Linked DNA regions of Homo sapiens: region 1 is linked to region 2. The links come from fine-mapping of genetic effects on gene expression. Tissue or cell type: tibial nerve. Region 2 holds a variant in brackets; the other region holds the start of a gene. All regions are shown on one strand. Distances are between the middles of the regions. Region 1 holds the start of IPCEF1 (interaction protein for cytohesin exchange factors 1). Region 2 overlaps CNKSR3 (CNKSR family member 3).

Region 1 (10,974 bases), 50 kb after region 2:
TCCTGCTGCAGCTGTCTCCACTCCAAGCTGATCACACAGATCTTGTGTGTTATAATTAACTCCCTGGTTAGTGCTCGTCAGTTACTTGGGTAACTTTTAAAATAATATGGTCCCACTTGTTTCTTGTTTGTGGAGAATCTCAATCAATCCTCAAATTGTAAGTTGGCTCTCAAACCTCTCTTTCCACCTCTCATGTCCCCCAGGGCTCTCCAAAGAAACTTTCCAGATGAAGAGAAATGCTCCATGTCTGTGCTGTGCAAGATGGGAGCTTCTGGACACCAGTGGCTACTGAGCACTCGAACTGTGGCTGGTGCAACCAAGGAACCGAAATTTTTTTTACTTAATTTTTATTTTACTTAATTTTTTTTACTTAATTTTTATTTTACTTTATTCTAATTAGCTAAAGCTTAATTTTTAGTAGCTAGTGGCTGCCATCAGAGTCCAGCATACTTTAACATTTATATTGTCTTAATCTTTTCTCTTTTTTTTTCTTTAAAATATACACAGAGACAGTGTCTCCCTTTGTTGCCCATTCTTGGCTTGAACTCCTGGGCTAAAGCAGTCCTCTTGCCTCAGCCTCCCAAAGATGGGATTACGGGTGCGAGCCACCACACTCTGCCACTTACAGTATCTTCTTGTTTTACATGTTTTCTCCAGATCTTGATCCTCAAAATTGAAAATCAGTTGTGAGTATTGCATTATTATGCCTGTAAAAATTATCCTTAACTTCACAAGCCGAACAGTATAGAGTAATTCCATTCTGTTCCTTTACTGCTTTTATTGTTATTTCTTGATGTTTTCTAATTGTTTTTCTATTTTTCTTTCTTTGGCTGCGCTGCCCATATTGGTTACTCCATAATTTCAGGGGTGGTATCACGCTCTGTGATTCCATTTTCCCCTGAATACTTTGCTTTTGGAAACTTTTCCTCTCTTACCGAGCTCCATGCTGATGTTTGCTGTGTGGTTCAGCTGCCTGATTCCCATCCAAGGATTTCCCTTTGCAACGCTCCCAGGTTGAGTCTTCTGTTTCCCGGATTCCACCACTTCCATTTTTTAGTTTACTCCCTTATTTTGCTGGGGTCCATCATCAAGTAACTTCCTAAGAAGGTATGTGGAGGCTGGGTGCAGTGGCTCATGCCTGTAATCCCAGCACTTTGGGAGGCCGAGATGGGGGGATCACTAAAGGTTGGGAGTGCGAGACCAGCCTGGCTAACATGGTAATACCCTGTCTCTACTAAAAATACAAAAATTAGCCAGGCGTGATGGCAGGCGCCTGTAATCTCAGCTACTTGGGAGGCTGAGGCAGGAGAATCGCTGAACCTGGGGGGCAAAGGTTGCAGTGAGGTGAGATCATGCCACTGCACTCCAGCCTGGGCAACAGAGCAAGACTCTGTCTCAAAAAATAAAAATTAAAAAAAAAAAAAGAAAGGATTTGTGGGCAGTCAGCCTTCTGAGTCAGCTCTGATATATCTGAAAACGGGCATGTTCTACCTTCACACCTAATTGATGGTTTCATTCAGGGATCAGCAACCTACTTTCCACGGGCCGCTTTTGGCTTGCTGCCTATTTTTGCACAGCTGGTAAGTTATGACAGTTTTTTACATTTTTAGGTGCTTAAAAAAATCAAAAGAAGAAGATTTTGTGATGCGTGAAAATTATAGGCAGTTCAAATGTTAGTGGCCCTAGATAAAGTTTTATTAGAGCACAGCTGCTCTTTTACATGTTATCTATGGCTGCTTTGATACCACAATGGCAGGGTTGAGTAATTGAACAGAGATTGGCCCACGAAATCTAAAATATTTACTATCTGGCCTGTTCCAGAAATAGTTTGTCAGCTCCTGGTTTAGTTGGTCAGAGTCAAAAACCCAAGTTCTCACAACGATCCCCATAGGACCTAACCATAATCATGGGTTCCCCGGCTCCCCTCTCCATCTCTGACCCGCTCTGCTCTGTTCCAGCCACACCTGCCCCCATGCTGTTCCTGCGGCACCAAAAGGCTCTGGGGGTGGCAGGATGTTTGCATTTGGGGCTCTGTCTGCGGATTTCTCTTCCCTTAGCTGTCTACACAGCTCACGCCTTCACTTCCTCCAGGCTGTCACTCAGAGGTCACCTTTGTGAGTCCTTTGCTGGCCTCCCCATCTAATTTTTAGCCTCTCCTTAGACTCTATATATTTCCTCTGCTGATTTATTTTTCCTCCTTAGCACTTACTTCTACCTAACACATTATATTTTACTTTCTTTGTTTGTGTAGAGAGTACACCATCCTGATCTGAGCATGAGAAAAGAAGTTCCCTGAGGGCAGGACTTTATTTGGTTCACTGCTGCGTCCTCACTGCCTAGACACAGTGCTCAAAAATATTTGCTGAATGCTATGGCTAGGCTTTGTGTCCCCACCCAAACCTCGTCTTGAATTGTAATCCCCATAATCTCCATGTGTCAAGGGAGACACCAGGTAGAGGAAATTGAATCATGGGGGTGGTTTCCCCCATGCTGTTCTTGTGAGAGTGAGTTCTCATGAGATCTGATGGTTTTATAAGGGGCTCTTACCCCATTACTCAGCACTTCTCTTTCCTGCCACCTTGTGAAGAAGGCGCCTTGCTTCCCTTCACCTTCCACTGTGATTGTAAGTTTCCTGAGGCCTCCCTAGCCATGCTGAATTAAACCTCTTTAATTTATAAGAGTCAATTAAACCTCTTTCCTTTAGAAATTACCCAGTCTCTGGCAGTTCTTTATGGCAGTATGAAAATGGACTAATACACTGGATGAATGAACACAAAATTCTAGAGTGAAATATAAATCCTTCAGAACTTTGAAGGCTGTGCTCGCTGACCTTCTAACCCTTAATGCTACTTCTGTGAAATCTGGAGCCCTTTGATTCCTTGTTTCTGTGAAAGTGACTTATTTTCTGTGTTTGGGAGATTTTAAGATTTTCTCTTTATTTCCGGAGTTTGGAAATTTTGCAGTGACTTGAAATTCTTCATCCTAGGCACTCGATGAGACTTTTTAATCTAAATATTCTTGGACTTCAGGGGGATCCTTTATGTTATTTCTTTGACTATGTCATCAAATAATATTTCCTGAAAATTTCACTTGAATTTATCACCCAACCTATCAAAATCTTTATTTAACAATTATATTTGCAATATCCAAGGGGTCTTTCTTGTTTTCAGATTATCTATCTTTCTTAGCATCCTGTTCTTTTTAATGGATACAATATCTTCAGGACTGTCTCTAAGGATACTGATTAGAAGCATATCTAGGCCAGGCGTGGTGACTCATGCCTGTAATCCCATCACTTTGGGAGGCCAAGGTGCACAGATCACCTGAGGTCAGGAGTTTGAGACCAGTCTGGCCGGCATGGTGAAACACTGTCTCTACTAAAAATACAAAACATAGCTGGGTGTGGTGGCACATATCTGTAATCCTGGCTACTCAGGAGGCTGAGGCAGGAGAATCACTTGAACCCTGGAGGCGGAGGTTGCAGTGAGCCGAGATAATTAATGCCACTGCACTCCAGCCTGGGTGACAGAGCAAGACTCTGTCTCAAAAAAAAAAAAAAAAAAAAAAGCACATCATCCATCATCCAGCACATGCTAGATGAGGCTCTTATTGCCAGAATGTGGAGTTCTGACTGTGGAGTGCTCATATCCACATACAATGCCTGTATTCTCTGCATGATTTCACTATGTGTAGAGACGAATCCTCGGTATGCTGCCCGGGGTTGGAATTGTGTGTGTTTGCTGTGCAGAGGCTGGGCGGACAGAGAGATTTGAAAGAGGGGTATGGGAGGGGCTGAGTTCTTACAGACTTTGAATTACTCTTCCTGTTTTCAGTCCTGTCACCCTATCACTCATTTAGCTCTCTTAGCTTCTTTTGGCTTGAGTTCCGGTCCTCTCAGGGATTCAGCACCGCACACGGGCAATTTCCTCCAACGCCGTGTTCTCCTAACTAATGAGATATTGTGGTTCCCCTGCCTGCCTCCATCTGTTATTGCTCCTCCATCGGCTTTCAGGCTGCCAGAAATCTGTTGTGCTCTCCCAAGTTCTGATGCTTTTCCTCCTTTTTTGGGTTATTGTGGGTTTATATCTTTTTTTTTCTTTTGAGACGGAATCTCGCTCTGTCACCCAGGCTGGAGTGCAGTGGCGCGATCTCAGGTCACTGCAACCTCCGCCTCCCAGGTTCAAACGATTCTCCTGCCTCAGCCTTCTGAGAAGCTGGGATTACAGGCTCGTGCCACCAGGCGTGGCTAATTTTTTGTATTTTTAGTAGAGACAGGTTTCACCATGTTAGCCAGGATGGTCTCGATCTCCTGACCTCATGATCTGCCAGCCTGGGGCTCCCAAAGTGTTGGGATTACAGGTGTGAGCCACCGTGCCCGGCCCTATAAACTTTTTATACTTTTCTCATTTTAACGGAGTCTTTGGGGAGGGAGGGAGCAAATCTGTGGTCAGCCCGTCATCTTGAACTGACAGTCCGGCCGTTTTGAGGATTATTCTAATTCTACAAATCATCTTTGCTCAAAGAATTTAAGTGGCTCTATTCTGGCCCCATAAAGGTAAATAACATGTCTTTTGAGGATATCTTTGATGATGGCATCTAAATGTCTGGTGAGAAGCCAGGCCATGCTGTTGATACCACTAAATTCCTTTAATATCACCTAGTACCATTTTTTTTTCTACGTAAAGCAGGGAACTAGAAGACAACTCAATATAGGGAGAAGATGAGGCAGCACTTCCAGAAATAGAAGTGTACACAAACAAGAAGCCGCTGAGAGAACCTTCATTTTGTTCCTGCTCAAAATGTACAGCATCTTCTTTCATTTTTTCACTCCTCCACAGATTTAGTTTACATTTTATCTTTGTCTTAGTCATTCAGGCTGTTATATCAAAACACCGTAGCCTGGGTGGCTTACAAACAAAAGACATTTATTTCTCACAGTTCTGGAGGCTGGACATCCAAGATCAAGGCGCCAGCAGATTCATTGTCTGGTGAGGACCTGCTTCCTCGTTCCTAGGTGACTGTCTTCTGGCCATGTCCTCATATGGTGGAGGGGTGGGCAGATCTCCAGGTTCTCTTTAATAAGAAAATTAATACCATTCATGAGGGCACTGTCCTCATGACCTAATCACTCCCCAAAGGTCCACCTCTAAATACAATCACATTGGGGATTAGGTTTCTATATATTCTATATATTCTATATATATATATATATATATATATATATATTTTATATATATATTATATATATATATTTTATATATATATTATATATATATATTTTATATATATATTATATATATATATTTTATATATATATATATTTTATATATATATTTTATATATATATTATATATATTATATATATTTTATATATATATTATATATATTATATATATTTTATATATATAATATATATATTTTATATATTATATATATATAATATATATAATATATATATTATATATATAATATATATATAATATATATATTATATATAATATATATATAATATATATATAATATATATATTATATATATATATTATATATATATATACACATACATATTTATTTATTTATTTATTTTGAGTTGGAGTCTTGCTCTGTCTCCTAGTCTGGAGTTCAGTGGTGCGATCTCGGCTCACTGCAACCTCTGCCTCCCAGGTTCAAGCAATTCTCCTGCCTCAGCCTCCTGAGTGGTTGGGATTACAGGCATCTGCCACCACGCCCAGCTGTATTCATTTCCCTAGAAGGTATAGAGAAACAAGAAGCTGGTGTTGAAAGGGAGATTGGGAGGGCAGGAATTTGTAATGAGATGGAATATCTCTGACTTTCAGCCTGCCATTTTCCTTTTCCAATGTGGGAAAGAAAAGTTTTGTGGTTAGAGACTCTTCTATGTCTACTGCAAAAGATGGCAGGCTAAGACTTATTTTTATCCTAAAATACGTTTTACAAATGTGTCTGTACCCTCTCTTTATTAGAGCATTATGAACGATTAGGAAAGGAGGAAAGAGGGAAATCTGAAAGAAGATTGAACCTAAAGAGGTTGAAGTGGCATTTCACCCAAAAATGCTGAGAATGACTCTGCAGATCATCTCACCCTCCATGCCTGTAAATGAACATCCTTGCCTCCAAAACAGGAAAGCAGAACCATGAACTGTTCCACCAATGTGCTCGGCAAATGAATACACTGGGCAGTGCTTAGTGATCAATGAACTCAGGCAGATGGGGTGTGCTTGCCTTACATGTACTGTGTCCTGGATATGGGCATCAAGGAAGGGTTTCATAACAATGAGAAGGAAGAACGTTAGGATTGAGGAAGTGGAGATGATACTTCCTCTTCTTTCGAAAGAGCTTTACTCTCTGATCAGCTTTGAATGTTAGTTCTGGGTTGACTGAGTTTCCAGAGCTGAGGCTGCTTTAAGTAGAATCCTCAAGCTTGGCCTCAGAGTACTATGAGGCTTCTGAATCCAGGAATAAGACTGCTCTTGGATTTACTCTCTTTGTATTGCATGTAAGTAACGTCACTTCTTGGCTGATGTATGAGAGGTAACTGCTTGACAGATCAAGATGGCAAAGCAATGGATACCCTAGCACTCTCCTTAGAGTAGTGAGGTAGGAAATATGACTTTGGGGATGTAATATTCACTCAGCTCTCTGTAATCTGGGAAGCCAGGTGCTAAAGATTCTTTAATTCTGTGAAAGCTTTGAAAGAGGAGAGAGTTGTGTACTCACTCTGCTTTTATGTTTCTTAAATGGGTGTTGTCTTGATAGGTGTTTAGACTGCAGACCACAGGTTTGATTTAGAAAAGCACAATTCAGCATGTATTTGGGTCCTGAGGAGTTCATTTGGGGAAGCACTCTGGGGCCGCCCTCTTTCGAGAAAGTGTGTTCTTTGCAAGGGAGCTTCCTTTGCATGGAGGCAGCTGGGGGACATTTTACACTTTGATAAAGGTCTCAGGCTTGCCAAAATATCTCTGGTATAAAAATGAAAGCTAGGTGTTGTTGGTTCAGAGTCTTTTAGTAAGGGTGTCTGGGGCACTTGATTTTTCTTTGCTGGGGTATATGTGAAAGTATTTAATTATAGAAGTCAGAATTATAACCCACTGAAGCATCTTTGACTACAGCAGTGGGCTCTATTAGTCTTGAGTGGCCTATGTGTTCCTAGTGCTGTCCTTGATAAAGTCTAATTTCTATCGAGTTATTTATTTTATGTAGAAAATTGAAACCGAGGGCTGGGCACAATGGCTCACACCTGTAATCCCAGTACTTTGGGTGACCACGGCGAGAGGATCACTTGAGGTCAGGAGTTTGAGACCAGCCTGGGGGCAAAATAATGAGACCTCATCTCTACAGGAAGAAAAAAAAAAAGAAAGAAAAGAAAATAGAAAATAGAATGCCGGGTGCGGTGGCTCACGCTTGTAATCCCAGCACTTTGGGAGCCCAAGGCGGGTGGATCATCTGAGGTCAGGAGTTCGAGACCAGCCTGGCCAACATGATGAAACCCCGTCTCTACTAAAAATACAAAAATTAACTGGGCGTGGGAGCATGCACCTGTAATCCCAGCTACCTGGGAAGCTGAGGCAGGAGAATTGCTTGAACCCGGGAAGCGGAGGTTGCAGTGAGCTGAGATTGCGCCACTGCACTTCAGCCTGGGTGACAGAGCAAGAGTTCATCTCAAAAAAAAAAAAGAAAGAAAGAAAGAAAAGAAACAGAAATGGAAAGAACACACATTTCTTTCTGCTCACATCATGCAAGCAAGGAAGAAAAGGGTGTAAGTTTGTGTATGTGTTGATGAACTCATTCTTTAATTTACCTTATAATTTCCTTCCATTCCTCTTTTTATAAATCAAGTGTCTTTTCTGGAGTGGGTCCATGTATGAACTATTTCAGGCAAGCTGTGTTAAGCAAATATACATCATCAGAGTATGGAAATAGGAAGTTCTTTCCTGCGGTAGTTTGCTGTGGCAATAAGAGATAAGAAATTACTTCATCACTATTGCCTGAGACTTTCCTTTTGACTCGTGCATCCTTTTGAACAGCTCACTTCTGCTTTCCATCCAGCTTGGAGGCTCTGCAGTGTGAGCTGATAATTGCAGTACAGGTTAACAATTTGCAAGTAGGTCTAATGTGGCAAATGGTGTGTGTGTGTGTGTGTGTGTGTGTGTGTGTGTGTGTGTGTGTGTGTGAAGAAAAATCCTAAAAAATAAGCTTTTTAGCCTTAAAGAGAATCCTGCAAATGGAGGAGTTACTTGTGCTCCCAAGTGCTCAGAACAGTGCCTGCTCTCAGTAAATATTTGTTGAATGAATGAATAACTGGCATAATTCATAAAATGAATGTGGTAGGAAAGCCATTGCTTTATCTCTGTTACTCAGGCACTTTAAAAAGTGAATGTTAGAAAAGATCAGAGTGGAGGAGGAGAGGAGAATATGAAGGTGTGGAGTAAAGAAAGGGTGTGTAGAACGGGGATCAGAAAAATCCCCAGGTCAGTAAAGTGAAAGGGTTGGCGATACATGGTGGTGGAGGTGGAGGTGGAGATAAAGGGGGTGGTGTTGGAAGTGGTGGTCGTAGGGGAGGTGATGGTGGAAGTGACGGTGGAGATGGTAGAGGTGGTTGTGGAGGCGATGGTGGAGGTGGTAATGGAGATGGTAGAAATGGTGATTGGAGTGGTAGAGGTGATGGTGGAAGTGACGGTAGAGATGGTGGAGGTGGTTGTGGAGGAGATGGTGGAGGTGGTGGTGGAGGAGATGGTGGAGGTGGTGGTGGAGGTGGTGGTGGAGATGGTGGTTGGAGGTGACGGTGGAGGTGACAGATGGTAGAAGTGATGGTAGACATGGTGGAGATGGTTGAGGAAGTGATGGTAGAGGTGATGGTACAGATGGCGGAGATGGTGGTTGGAGGTGATGGTAGTAGAGGTAATGGTGGAGGTAATCATGGGAAGGTCAGTATAATTTAGCCAAGAGAAAACACAGTTGGGGGCTCAGACATATCTGTTCAAAATCTATATCTCTGAACCTACCAGCTCTGTGACCTCCGAACCTATAAAGTGGTGACTATAACATATTGACTTTTTGGGTTGTTGTGTGAGGGTTAAAAATATGATTGCATTAAATGGCAGTTATCGATATCAGTTTTCAAGTTGCCAGAGCCACGCTTAAAAATTTAATCTCTAATTTCTCTTTTTTTCTTTATGCTTTGTGCATTTTCTGAATTTTGTAAAGTGAAAGTGAGTTTTTAAAAGAATCATTAATTTAAAATAAATATGATAAGCCTAGTTATCAGAATGGTTGAACACATGGTGGTATATAAAGAAATGTCATCAAGAAAATGATATTTATGGAAATAGTCTCATGATGTAATGCTAAGTCCAAAAAGGAGGAACATAACTTTTTCAACTATGTAAAAATACTGCAGAGAAGCAAGATTTGGGTGAAATGCATTAAAATGTTAATATATGAGTAGTGGGCTTATAGCTCGTGGTTCTTCTTTCTTTGTACTTTGTACTCTATTTTCTTCCCAGATTTTTCATTAGTGGAACATACCTGAACTATTTTAATAATCTGAAAATAAAACAAACGTTGAAAGAAAGTAAATAGGCCCGGGTGCGGTGGCTCTCATGCCTGTAATCCCAGGACTTTGGGAGGCCAAGGCGGGCGGATCACCTGAGGTCAGGAGTTCCAAACCACTCTGGCCAACATGGCGAAACCCTGTTTCTACCAAAAATACAAAAATTAGCTGGGCATGGTGCGGGCGCACGTAATCCCAGCTACTCAAGAGGCTGAGGCACAAGAACCACTTGAATCCGGGAGGCGCAGTGAGCCGAGATCACGCAGCTGCACTCCAGCCTGGGCAATGAGGGAGACTTCATCTCAAAAAAAAAAAAAAAAAAAAGGAAAAGGAAAAGAAAAGAAATGGACAAAAATGTAACCCTCCTTAAATCTTCCACCAACAGGACGACAAAAGCAATGTTTTAGTGATAGTGTGCTGAAGTTCATGGTTCATTGCAGTCTAAGAAATGACACTTAAAATTTATGTTATTTAGTCTTTGTAGGGAAATCCCCTTTGAGAGTAAGGCTGGTGCAGAATCATGTGTCAACTCTGAAGTGAGAAAAAGGAAACGTGGTCCCACTGGGGCTGGCTGGTCTGATTAATTCCTAGAATGACATGAAAATGGGTTATTTTCTCTGGATGACTTATAACTGCGTCTAAACCTGAGTTTGATGATTTCCTAAAAAATGCAATAGTCAATTTGTCAGTTATTAATTATAAGTTAAATTTAAATCTCCCAATATAATTGTTAATACATTTCTTAGGGAATGTTGCCATATGTTTATCATCTTGGTACTCATAGGGAGAGGTCATAAAAACATTTCTATAGAGTCACAGATTATTTTATAGATTCAAGAATTATCATTCCTGTTGTTAGAATCTTGGCCCTGCCGTCTCACAGGGCCAGCAGGTCACCATGGAGTCCCTTATCAGGGACGTAACCAAAATAAAATATTTTGGCTTGTAGGCATTGAAAAGAATCTTCTGTCTTTGTCTTAGAATCAATCTTTGTCTTAGAAAGGAGAGATAGTCGGCAGACAAAAAGGCAAAGGGCTGAACAAATGTGAGCAAAGACAGGTCTCCCAGACTGACACAGGGATTGACATAGAAGCAGCTGAAAGGTGAAAAGTGAGCCAGCTTAAACTCAGCCCAAAGTTACTAGAATGTGGATGAGTCTTTCAAAAGAAGTCTGAATAAAAAAATGACCAGATCGTCAAGGAAAACTAAGTCAAGTTAGAAATGAAAGAATTAATTGAAGAAACAAAAACCCAGCATGCACTAAGCATTGAAATAGAAACAGCAGCAAGATAGGATTCCCAACAGATTCTATAGCATTTTCTGAATATTTCATACGTGGAATGCTGAATAAAAAACCAATGATATTACTGAGCACTTGCTAGGTTCTAGACACTGTGATCTGCACTT
Region 2 (10,974 bases):
GACAATCTGGCTCATTTATTCAGCATATCTTTCCTGAGTATTGGGTCTGGGTTACCCTCTGACACAAAACAGACTCGGTCTTTGACCCTACAGAACTGCCAGGGTCTTATTCAACAATTCAAGCATATATTGAGAAATATATGATTAGGTTATAATATTTCATAAAACAAAGTTCAGGCTGGATTTTATTACAGTGACATTTTACTTTCTATCAGAATTTTTTGTTTGTTGGTTTTCATTTGAAGCTGAGGTATTTGCTTCATTGTATTTCTTCTGCATTGGGTGCAGAGATTCAACATTGTTTTCCATTTCCTTGAGTCTTGGCTTACTCAGAACTTATTATAGCGTGTAGAGAATGTACCTCAGGTGATCGGGGCATTCTGGTTTGCAGGATCTTAAGTGTGTTTAAAGTTACAGGTAGTCTTTCCCTCTGCATATAGAGAGCATGACATTCCACTACTAATGTGTGGATTGTTCTATCAGAAACTGGAGGAAGGCACCCTCCCTTGATCCAGAATATTCTTGTCTGGGTTCCTGGAGTAGTGGCAAGAAAAGGGGTGCTGTGTACATAGTGAGAGATAAAGGAACCTGGGGCTAGGAGGAGAGCTGGATTAAACTGCTCGGGAAGACGCTTTTGAGAGTGCACACACACCACTCATGAAGGATTTTCTGAGGAATGAAAAATGGGAATGGATTACTGAGAAACAAGTCATGAGTCATGAAAGCTTTGTGAATGGGGAGTTATATGCCCGGTTTAAAGGTATGGAAGGAGATATATTTGTGGGTGGGAGGGGTAGGTGGATGCCATCCCACCTGGGAATACCACACACAGACATGGCTGATTAGTAGATTGCTTTGGGACTCAGTTGATTCTGTATTTTGTCTAGCAGTTTTTGTCCTGATTTGCCTAATGGAATTTACCAAGTGCAAAAAAACTAAGCAGCTGGTAACTTGGACTCAAATTAATCCTACAGTTTAAACTGACATGTAGATAGAATTAGAATGGAATCAGTGATCCAACTTTTGCTGGTTTTTGTAGTATTTGATTCAGAAAAGAATCACTCTCCATTGGTTACTATAAAGGTTCCTTTGTATCTTTTGACATGGTTTTCAAATCTAACAACTTCATAATATATCAAGTCTTTTTTGCTGGATTTTGGCAGAGATCCGACTCTTGGCATGAGCAACGTGGTTCGCTAGAGCATACCTTAATGTGTGATTGCTGTAGTAAATAGGATATTCAGCTACACACAGAAGCACAGGAAAACTAGAGCTGTCTTTTCAAAGCTATATTTGTTTGGATATTAAAAAAAACCCTGCATTTACTCTTCTTTTTTTTTTTTTTTTTTTTTGAGATGGAGTCTCGCTCCATTGCCCAGGCTGGAGTGCAGTGGCATGATCTCAGCTCACTGTAACCTCCGCCTCCTGGGTTCAAGCACTTCTCCTGCCTCAGTCTCCCAAGTAGCTCCTGCCACCACACCTGGCTAATTTTTGTATTTTTAGTAGAGATGGGGTTTCACCTTGTTTGTCAGGCTGGTCTTGAACTCCTGACCTCAGGTGATCCACCTGCCTTGGCCTCCCAAAGTGCTGGGATTACAGGCGGGAGCCGCTGTGTCCGGCCTGCATTTATTCTTATTTCATCACGTCATGGTATTTTGCTTATTTAATAGGATCTGTATGTATTTGAGCGGCAACTGGGGTTGACAAAAGGAATGCTTTTCCTCCAGTGGAAAAGGAGAATTTAAATTATCTTCTGTGTGCTGGAGGTAGCAGCACTGCTGGAATTCTTCAGTATGAGAACATCTTTGTAAACAACTTAATTATTGTCCATATTATCTTCCAGGGATGAGAATGGCAGTTTTGTTTATGGAGGGTCCAGTAAGTGCAAACAACCATTGCCTGGTCCTAAGGGTTCAGAGTCCCCGAATTCCTTCTTGGACCAGGAAAGCCGGAGACGAAGATTCACCATTGCAGACTCGGATCAGTTGCCTGGGTACTCGGTGGAAACCAACATTCTGCCCACAAAAATGAGAGAGAAAACACCATCTTATGGTAAGTTTCAAGTGTTTGTTTTGTTCTGCCGTTGGCCTTGACTTCTCCTCCCCGCCCCCTGCCTTAGTTGGAACTGTTGGATGAATTTGGCAGACTTCAAGAGTAATCTGAGGAAAACATAAACCTCAATGAAATTCTAAGTATGAGACCTTTATTCATCTCTGTCAAGCGGATCCTTGTTGAGTCATTACTCTGCCTGGCATGAAAGCCCAACTGGGTGAGATCATGTTACAGTTTTAACTTTCAGTGCCTGGGTTTTAGCTTTGGAGTTGCTTTGCTCTGTAGACTCACAGGCTCAAGTTTAATGTGCCTCTATCTTAGTAGCACTCTATTTCCTGCTATGGAAATACAGTGCTTTAAAATACTTTTATTTTAAAATTTGTTATTGCTTCTGTCTAAGTGGGTGTGGTATTGTGAGGTCTAAGTTATACATAAAGGGAACGGTTCACTAAAGTTCCAGAACTCATCAAACTTGTCACCTTCTTTCTCGTCCCTCTGAAGGCAAGCCACGGCCTTTGTCCATGCCTGCTGATGGGAACTGGATGGGGATTGTGGACCCTTTTGCCAGACCTCGAGGTCATGGCAGGAAAGGTACGTTTCATCCAAGCAAACCAAGGAACAGCAAATGGGGAGTGAACAGCCCCAGGGCCTGGTTTCACCTCTGTTTCTAAATGTGTTATAATAAGTAGACTGAGTACTTGGCCTTTCTGAGTCCCGTTTTCTCATCTGTAAAATTAGGACTGCTGAAGATCTTTAAGATCCTACTTATTTCTAGAATGGCAAAATTATATAATCCTAGTTAGTGATTGTAAATATCCTAATTAGCATTGAGTGCTGTAAAAAGGCTATAGACTTTAATGGTCTAATTTTTATTCATTTACTTTTTAGAGACAGGATCTTGCTCTGTTACACAGGCTGGAGTGCAGTGGCGTGATCATACCTCACTACAGCCTTGAGCTCCTGGACTCAAGTGATCCTCCTGCCTCAGCCTCCTGAGTAGCAGGGACTACAGGTGCACGCCACCACGGCTGGCTAATTTTTTTTTTTTTTTTGGTAGAGACAGAGTCTCAATATGTTGTCCAGGCTGGTCTCAAACTCCTAGCTGTAAGTGGTCTTCCTGCCTCAGCCTCCCAAAGTGCTGGAATTACGGGGATGTGCCACCATACCCAGCCAATAGTCTAATTTTTTAATGAATAGAAATAAATTATTCATTAAACAATCTTTTTCAAAATTTATTTTTAAAAATTGAGATGGGGTCTTACTATGTTGCCCAGGCTGGCCTTGAACTCCTGGGTTCAAGTGATCCTCCCACTTCAGCTTCCTGAATAGCTGGTGTTACAGACGTGTGCCACCATGCCCAGCTTTCATTAAACAATCTTATTCTAAATTTTGTTGCTTTTATTTTTGGAGTCTGTTTGATTTCTGATGAACAAACATGGATTTTTTTTTCTTCCAAGTCCTTCTTATGTTAGAAGGCAGTTACTATTTGAAAAGAAATTTGTGTTTAATTCACCCTGTAATCAAAGTCCCTGGTTATTATGCTGGTCTTGAGTGAAATGTTTTAAAACATTCTCATTTTATTGCCAGATTGCATTTGATTGTCATCATTGGCAGAACATTATAACATTGTTTTTGCAGTTGTTGAAACAAAGGGCAGTTGAAAAGTTAAAGTACAATAGGCTTTAGATAGTAAAAGGAAGAAGAAAAAATTCTGGAAGCCTAACCTTCCAAAGGGATTGATTGACCCCTGACCCTTTCTAGGGACTTGGTAAAGTTTGTCACCTAAGTACCCATATCACCTGTATTATGCTAAAGTGAAAAAGGGAAAGATGCCTGGGTACCTACCATTCAGGATCCCCTTAGTTAACGTGTGAGTATCCATGGAGCAGTCAGCAGGTGGCAGGGCTGTCCGTTGTTTAGATTTAGACACGTTAACATCTTCCTTGCCGTTCATCTGAGCCAGGGTTGAGCCTTTTATTTATTTTATACATGGAGAGATGAAGTGTCAGGGTTATGGGGTGTGAAATTGGGAAATGGAAAAATACTTGTTCCCTCCACTCCTCCTTGCATATTTTTCTTGCATGATTGTTTTGGAATAAAGGTATCTATCTATACACAGCCACTTAAAAAAATAACAGTTTTATTGAGATATAACTCTTTGCATGAAATTCAGCTTTTTAAAATATACAGTCAGGTGGGTTTTAGTATATTCACGGAGTTGTACCCCAGTTGCCACTATTCCAGAACATTTTTGTCACTCCAAAAAGAAACCTTGTGCCTTTTAGCAGTCACTCCCAATTCCGTCCTTCTTCAGCCCCTGACAGGCACTCATCTACTCTGTGGATTTGCCTGTTCTGGACATTTCATATAAATAGACTTATGCAACATGTGGCTTTTTGACAATGGGCACTTTTTCAATGTGACTGTTCCCCTTTCATTACAAAAGCAAAGCAAGTACATTGAAAAACATGGAAGGCATGAGAAAATAAAACTCAGCTGGAATCTGTTTCTCTGACCTAAGAAATAATCACTGTGAATGTTTCGTGTGATTTCCAGTTGTTCCTGTATTTACATTTATATACTTAGAAAAATGTGCAAAATGGGAGAAGTTGGCCAGGTGCGGTGGCTCACACCTGTAATCCCAGCACTTTGGGAGGCCAAGGCAGGCGGATCACGAGGTCAGCAGTTCGAGACCAGCCTGGCCAACATGGTGAAACCCCGTCTCTACTAAAAATACAAAAATTGGCCAGGTGTGGTGGTGGGCGCCTGTAGTCTCAGCTATTCGGGAGGCTGAGGCAGGAGAATCTCTTGAACCTGGGAGGCGGAGGTTTCAGTGAGCCCAGACCTCTCCATTGCACTCCAGCCTGGGCAACAGAGTGAGACTCCGTCTCAAAAAAAGGGGAGAAGTAAATATTCAATAATACTATGTAAAAATGAATATTATCTACACCATATTTGAAAAGAATATAGCCGTATTAGAATGCCATCTTATGGCTCTAGCGCCTATTTATTCAACGTGCCACTGTTGGAAATTTAGGTTTTTTTTTTTTTTTTTTTTTTTCAAATTCTAAAATTTGAAAAAGGCTAAAATTTTCTAAATTCTAAAATTTAGAAAACTTAGAATTTAGAAAATTTAGAAAATTCTAAAATTCAAATTCTAAAATTTGAAAAAGGTTTCAGTAGGCTAGGTGTGGTGGCTCATGCCTCTAATCCCAACACTTTGGGATGCTGAGGCAGGTGGATTGCTTGGTCTCAGGATTTCGAGACCGGCTGGGTGTGGTTGTGCGCACCTGTAGTCCCAGCTACTTGGGAGGCTGAGGTGGGAGGATCGCTTGAGCCTGGGAGATGGAGGCTGCAACTAGCTGAGATGGCACCACTGTACTCCAGCCTGAATGACAGTGAGACCCTGTCTCAAAAAATAAAAATAAGCATAAAAATAAATGTTTCAGTAAGCATCCGTGAGTCCATAGATCTTTGCACATTTTGGGGTGTAGAATTTCCGCTTCACAAGGATGCTACATGTTACCAAAGTGTACTGTATTTTAAGTTTCTATTCAGTTTCTTAACATTCCAGCCACATCCCAGGGGGTCTGCTGGCAGTTAGGGCAGGATCACTCTTTTCCTTGTTCGGGAATGTTCCTGAATGCCCAGCTTGAATGCCCTGCATTAAACAATGCATAAACAGTTCTGTTCAGCCATCGCGGGGACACTACACTCTATGGTCCCCACCCACTAAAGGAGACCCGTGTGCTACCTCTCAGGCGCTAAAGCAGCCTAAAGTATGAGGGACCCTTCCCATTTCTGCTTCCAGAGCACCCATTGGTGGGCCCAGCCACAGGTGGGACCTTGTGGCCAATCCAGGGAGGAGAGCAGTAAAGGTATGGTGCCCACATTCAGGGTGGTGGCAGAAGTCTGGGCAGGCCGAGGGCCCTCCAAAGAGCACTGTGTAGGGGATTGTGATTTTTTTTTTTTTTTCCTGGAGGGGACAGAGTCTCGCTCTGTCAACAGCCTGGAGTGCAGTGGCGCGATCTTGGCTCACTGCAACCTCCGCCTCTCGGGTTCAAACGTTTCTCTGAGTAGCTGGGACTACAGGCGCCCGCCACCACGCCAGCTAATTTTTGTATTTTCAGTAGAGACGGGGTTTCACCATGTTGGCCAGGATGGTCTAGATCTCTTGACCTCGTGATCCACCCACCTCGACCTCCCAAAGTGCGGAGATTACAGGTGTGAGCCACCACGCCC[G/A]GCTGGGATTGTGACTTAATGGACTTTGTCTGGAAACAGGGGAGGATGCCCTTTGCCGGTATTTCAGTAACGAGCGGATTCCTCCGATCATTGAAGAGAGCTCCTCTCCCCCATACCGGTTCTCCAGACCCACGACCGAGCGGCATCTGGTCCGGGGTGCGGACTACATCCGAGGAAGCAGGTGCTACATCAACTCAGATCTCCACAGCAGCGCCACGATTCCATTCCAGGAGGAAGGGACCAAAAAGAAATCTGGCTCCTCAGCTACGAAGTCCTCGTCCACAGAACCGTCCCTCCTGGTCAGCTGGTTTACGCGCCTCAAACTGTTGACTCACTGAGAGGGACCCTGCTCAGGCCACCTGCCTGGCTCCTGCCCCAAGTGCCTTGCTTTTACAGTGGACAGCCTCTTCTCGTTTCAGCCTCAGTATTATGTAGGGACCTTATGCAATTTCTTTTTCTTTTGAAAAGTTATCTACTGCCCTTCTTGGAAGTTTGCAGGATTGGATGGGAACAAATTCAGAGGATCTTAGGTGCTGGCTTGTGGAGACAAAAGGAGGGAAATGGGTAGAGCCTGTTTGTCTTGCTTCCCCAGAGATAGAATGTGAAGACACGCGCTAGAAATCGCAGTCCTGGCCAGAGACGTTATGGTCATTGTGAGGGACTGGTGGCATTGTTCCTTTTTGAGGGGCTGGGGGGACTCAAATTGGTGGCTGTTTTCACACAGATGTGTTGGTTTGTGGTCCAACTTCTTTATCTGAAAAAGCCAGTGAGAAAACATTTTTGATTTGATTTTTCTAAACTATCTACCATATTTTAAGTGTAGCAGCTTTGACTTTGCAATAACGTGGCAAGTATCTGATTTCTCCTTTGAGGCAGAGGTTTAAGTGTAGGCCTGTTACACTTGTTTGATACCTTTTTCATGACAGTCTCAGTATAGATCAGTTGGTACAGAAATACATGAACACATTTTGATAGGGCTTATTTCACACAAAGAAGTTTATGGTTATTTGTGTGGGGTGGTGTTGTTATATATTATTGTCTTTAAGGGAAAAGAAGCTATAAGATTCGCTGACAGCCAAAGTATCATTTAGAAAAGTGAAGCAACAAGATTTAGGTTGATGAAAGATACATGAGTTTGCATTTTGACCTGTTCAGTGTCTGTCTTCCAGCACGGTGTGTACACTTCTTCAAAATTGTACACAGTTTGCTAATTAGAAATATCTTGGAAAGCCTCATGGTCACTAATTTTCAACTAGCATCAGGTATTTTGAAAACGTGTGTCTGGATATTAACTCTTGTTTAAACTGAATGTATGATATTTTGTTAGAATGGAAAAGTACTATCTTGTTAATTTAAGTATTTTAAATATAGTTGTATATTTTTCTTACTCTTAGTCACCTGTAATTGAAATATTTCTGTTTTGCGTCATACACGAAGCTAGTGAAAAAGAAAGTGCAAGGCATTTTCAGATGAGCAAGTGACTATCGTGGCTGTTGCCAGCAGGGCAGTATTGTTAAAAAAAATCAAAATAAACCCTCCCAAGCATTTTGGGATTTTATGGATTAGAAATGGAAGAACAGGAGAAGCATATGCAAAGTGAAATTGCACGAGGGGAATTTTCTGAGGTATCTTCCTAGGCAGAGCCGAAATCTCCTACTCCAAAATGCCCTTTCTCATACCACCGGAATTGTTGAGTTTGCTGAACTGCCTGGAATTCAGCCCATGAAAATCACTGGAGTTAGGAAACATCTTCCCTTTAAAATGCTTCTGGTGTGGTTAAAGGAACTAGCAACCACTCATGTATAATTACTGTGACTGAATTCAGTCAGGCTGGTTTTTTTTGTTTGTTTGTTTGTTTTTGAGATGGAGTCTCAATCTGTCACCCAGGCTGGAGTGCAGTGGCGCAATCTCAGCTCACTGCAACCTCCACCTTCCAGGTTCAAGCGATTCTCCTGCCTCAGCCTCCCATGTAGCTGGGATTATAGGTGCCCGCCACCATGCCTGGCTAATTTTTGTATTTTTAGTGGAGACGGGGTTTCACTACGTTGGCCAGGCTGGTCTCAAACTCCCAACCTCAACTGATCTGCCGGCCTCAGCCTCCCAAAGTGCTGGGATTACAGGCATGAGCCACCACACCCGGCTCAGTCTGGCTGTTTTCTTCTCTACCTCTAAGACAACTGCCATGAAGATCTGGTATTTCGGCCTGGCGCAGTGGCTCATGCCTGTAATTCCAGAACTTTGGGGGGCCAAGGTGGGTGGATTACCTGGGGTCAGGAGTTCAAGACCAGCCTGGCCAACATGGTGAAACCCTGTCTCTACTAAAAATCAGCTTCGCATGGTGGTGGGCACCTGTAGTCCCAGCTACTCGGGAGGCTGAGGCAGGAGAATCACTTGAACCCTGGAGGCGGAGGTTGTAGTGAGCCAAGATCAGGCCACTGCACTCCAGCCTGGGTGACAGAAGGAGACTCTGTCTCAAAAAAAAAACAAAAAGAAAAAGATCTGGTATTTCATGGAGACATGGAGACCCAAGGGTGTTTGGCAGATGGAGAGAAGAGGCTTGCAGTGTGTGACCACAGGGTGTTCAACACACTAGGAGGGTGGGGTGTGGGCTGGGGAGGTCTCGTGTAGGGCACTGGTGATGAGGAGGGAGCTGTGTACGAGGGGCGAGCCAGCCCTGCCTGTTTTACTCTTGTCTTGAGCTGGCTTTATGCCCAGGAAGTGGGTGGCAACATCTCCTCTTACTCCCCAGATTGTGGGGAGAACTCTAAGAGCTGTAGTTCCACTGGATGATGAGTTAAATCACTCTGGAGGCCTTAGCTGGCTGGTGAGCTCTTTTTCTGTGGGGAAAATGCCACTTGTGAATTGAACAGCCATCCTTTAAGTGAATATTCGGCAGTCAGTCTTCATTATAGGCAGTGGCCAACCAGATTGGTGCTTTTCAGCCTTTGTTCCCTGGAGTCCCAGGACCCGCGAGAGAAGTTCCTGGCTCCTCTACTTGCAGTCACCCTCCACAGCTTCATCTTTCTTTTTATTTGAGGTTTTCTCCTGAATTGTGTTTGAAAAATATATTGCTGCTAAAAAAAAAAAACCTTTGTAAACCTCTACTATGGACATACATAAATAATAGTTTAATATGGATTTCTTAGAAATTAATGGAAACTGCTTGCCTCAGTAGTAATCCAGGTTTAATTGTGGACGTGTGTTCACATATGAAGTTGCTTGATGATGCTTTTTGACAGGATTCTTTATTTTTATTTCTTTAAAAAAAATTTTTTTTTTTTTCTGAGACAGATTCTCACTCTGTCACCCAGGCTAGAGTGCAGTGGTACAATCTCAACTCACTGCAGCCTCTGCCTCCCAGGTTCAGGCAATTCTCCTGCCTCAGCCTCCCAAGTAGCTGGGATTACAGGTGCCCGCCACCACACCTGGCTAATTTTTGTATTTTTAGTAGAGATGGAGTTTCACCATGTTGGCCAGGCTGATCTTGAACTCCTTGACAGGATACTTTACAAGAGTGATTGTTAAAACTCTCCCAGACACAACTCAACACCTACCCCTATTATAATATTTTATAGCATCACTTTTCAATCTTCAAATGAAAATCATGGATGATGAAGCTTACCTTCACTCATAAAAACATCACTCCATTTACTATTCTGAAATGAAACTAGCAGGTAATATAACTAGCCTCTAAAACATACCCATCAGTGACGTTCTAACTGAAACAGATAAGATATTTTATAATGAAATAATTATTTTCATATGTACATATTCTAGCATGGTTATATTACAAGATGTAATTAAACTACTAAGCAGGGCACATACTTTGTATGTGTGTGTATAAATATAAATATGTGAAAAATCACCATGAATGTGGTAGTTACCAATTCAGACCTGCTGCATTGGCAGTTCAATACCAGGAAAGGGGTCGATGTCAGCAGTATGATTTTCTAAAATGTGGCCAATTCTTTAGATAAAGTTCTAGGCATACCTAGTCTGTAATGGCTTCACTCATATAGTGCTTGCTGTGTGCCTGGCATTGTTCTAATACCTTTCTAATAAATCTATGAGGTGAGTACTGCTGTTAGTCCCGTTTTGCATATGAGGGAGTTACCCAGGTTATGTGCTAGTCATCCTGGTTATGTGCTAATAATGGCAGAGCTGGGATTAAAATGAAAGCAGCCTGGCTCTGGCTTTCTTGCTCATAATCACTCAGTATATAGGCTTCCTTCCATTTATAGAATTCTCTCATTGCATTCTTGAAAAATCCAAAGCATATTAAAACTGGGCTGAAAATTCTGTGTGTTTATATATAAAATGAAATGAGATCATAGATTTGTTATTGTAAACTGAGTTCCCATCTATATGAATATTGGGCGGGGCAATTGAAAGTTGTGTTGATGAGTCAGCTCTTTGTTGTGAGGGCTGTAAGCTGCAGGGCTTGTGTATCACGCATGCTCCAACAGGTTAAATCTCAGTAGTGGCCGCCCATCAGTGGCACCCCTAACATGCTCACATTTCCAGAACTGCCTCTTGGGCGGAGGTGGGGGAGGGTACCATCTCTTTCAGAACAAGTATTTTAAAAGAAATCCTGTATCCTCCTTAAGTAGTATTTCAGTCTATATATTTGTCCATTTCCTATCTCTGCTTCTCTCTCAGTTCTTTCCCCACCAAACCTGA

Evidence for each region. PIP is the estimated chance that this variant, and not a neighbour inherited with it, causes the effect.
Region 1: it holds the start of IPCEF1, and the variant in region 2 is fine-mapped to the expression of IPCEF1 in tibial nerve (GTEx, PIP above 0.99). The same link has a PIP of 0.9 or more in esophagus muscle, pancreas, sigmoid colon, sun-exposed skin and unexposed skin.

What each region holds. Positions count from the first base shown.
Region 1 is chr6:154,352,211-154,363,184 of GRCh38, reverse strand. IPCEF1 (interaction protein for cytohesin exchange factors 1) reads left to right here and starts at 6,382. Exons shown (of 12, transcript NM_001130700.2): 1 at 6,382-6,513. LOC105378067 (a long non-coding RNA gene) reads left to right here. Exons shown (of 3, transcript XR_007059823.1): 2 at 204-1,107; 3 at 1,521-3,292.
Region 2 is chr6:154,402,012-154,412,985 of GRCh38, reverse strand. It overlaps CNKSR3 (CNKSR family member 3), which reads left to right. Exons shown (of 13, transcript NM_173515.4): 11 at 1,844-2,052; 12 at 2,554-2,643; 13 at 6,334-10,974. The coding sequence ends at 6,632. Among named protein-coding and RNA genes, the nearest start is that of IPCEF1, 51 kb to the right of the region's middle. The variant G/A (reference allele first, on the strand shown) is at 6,295.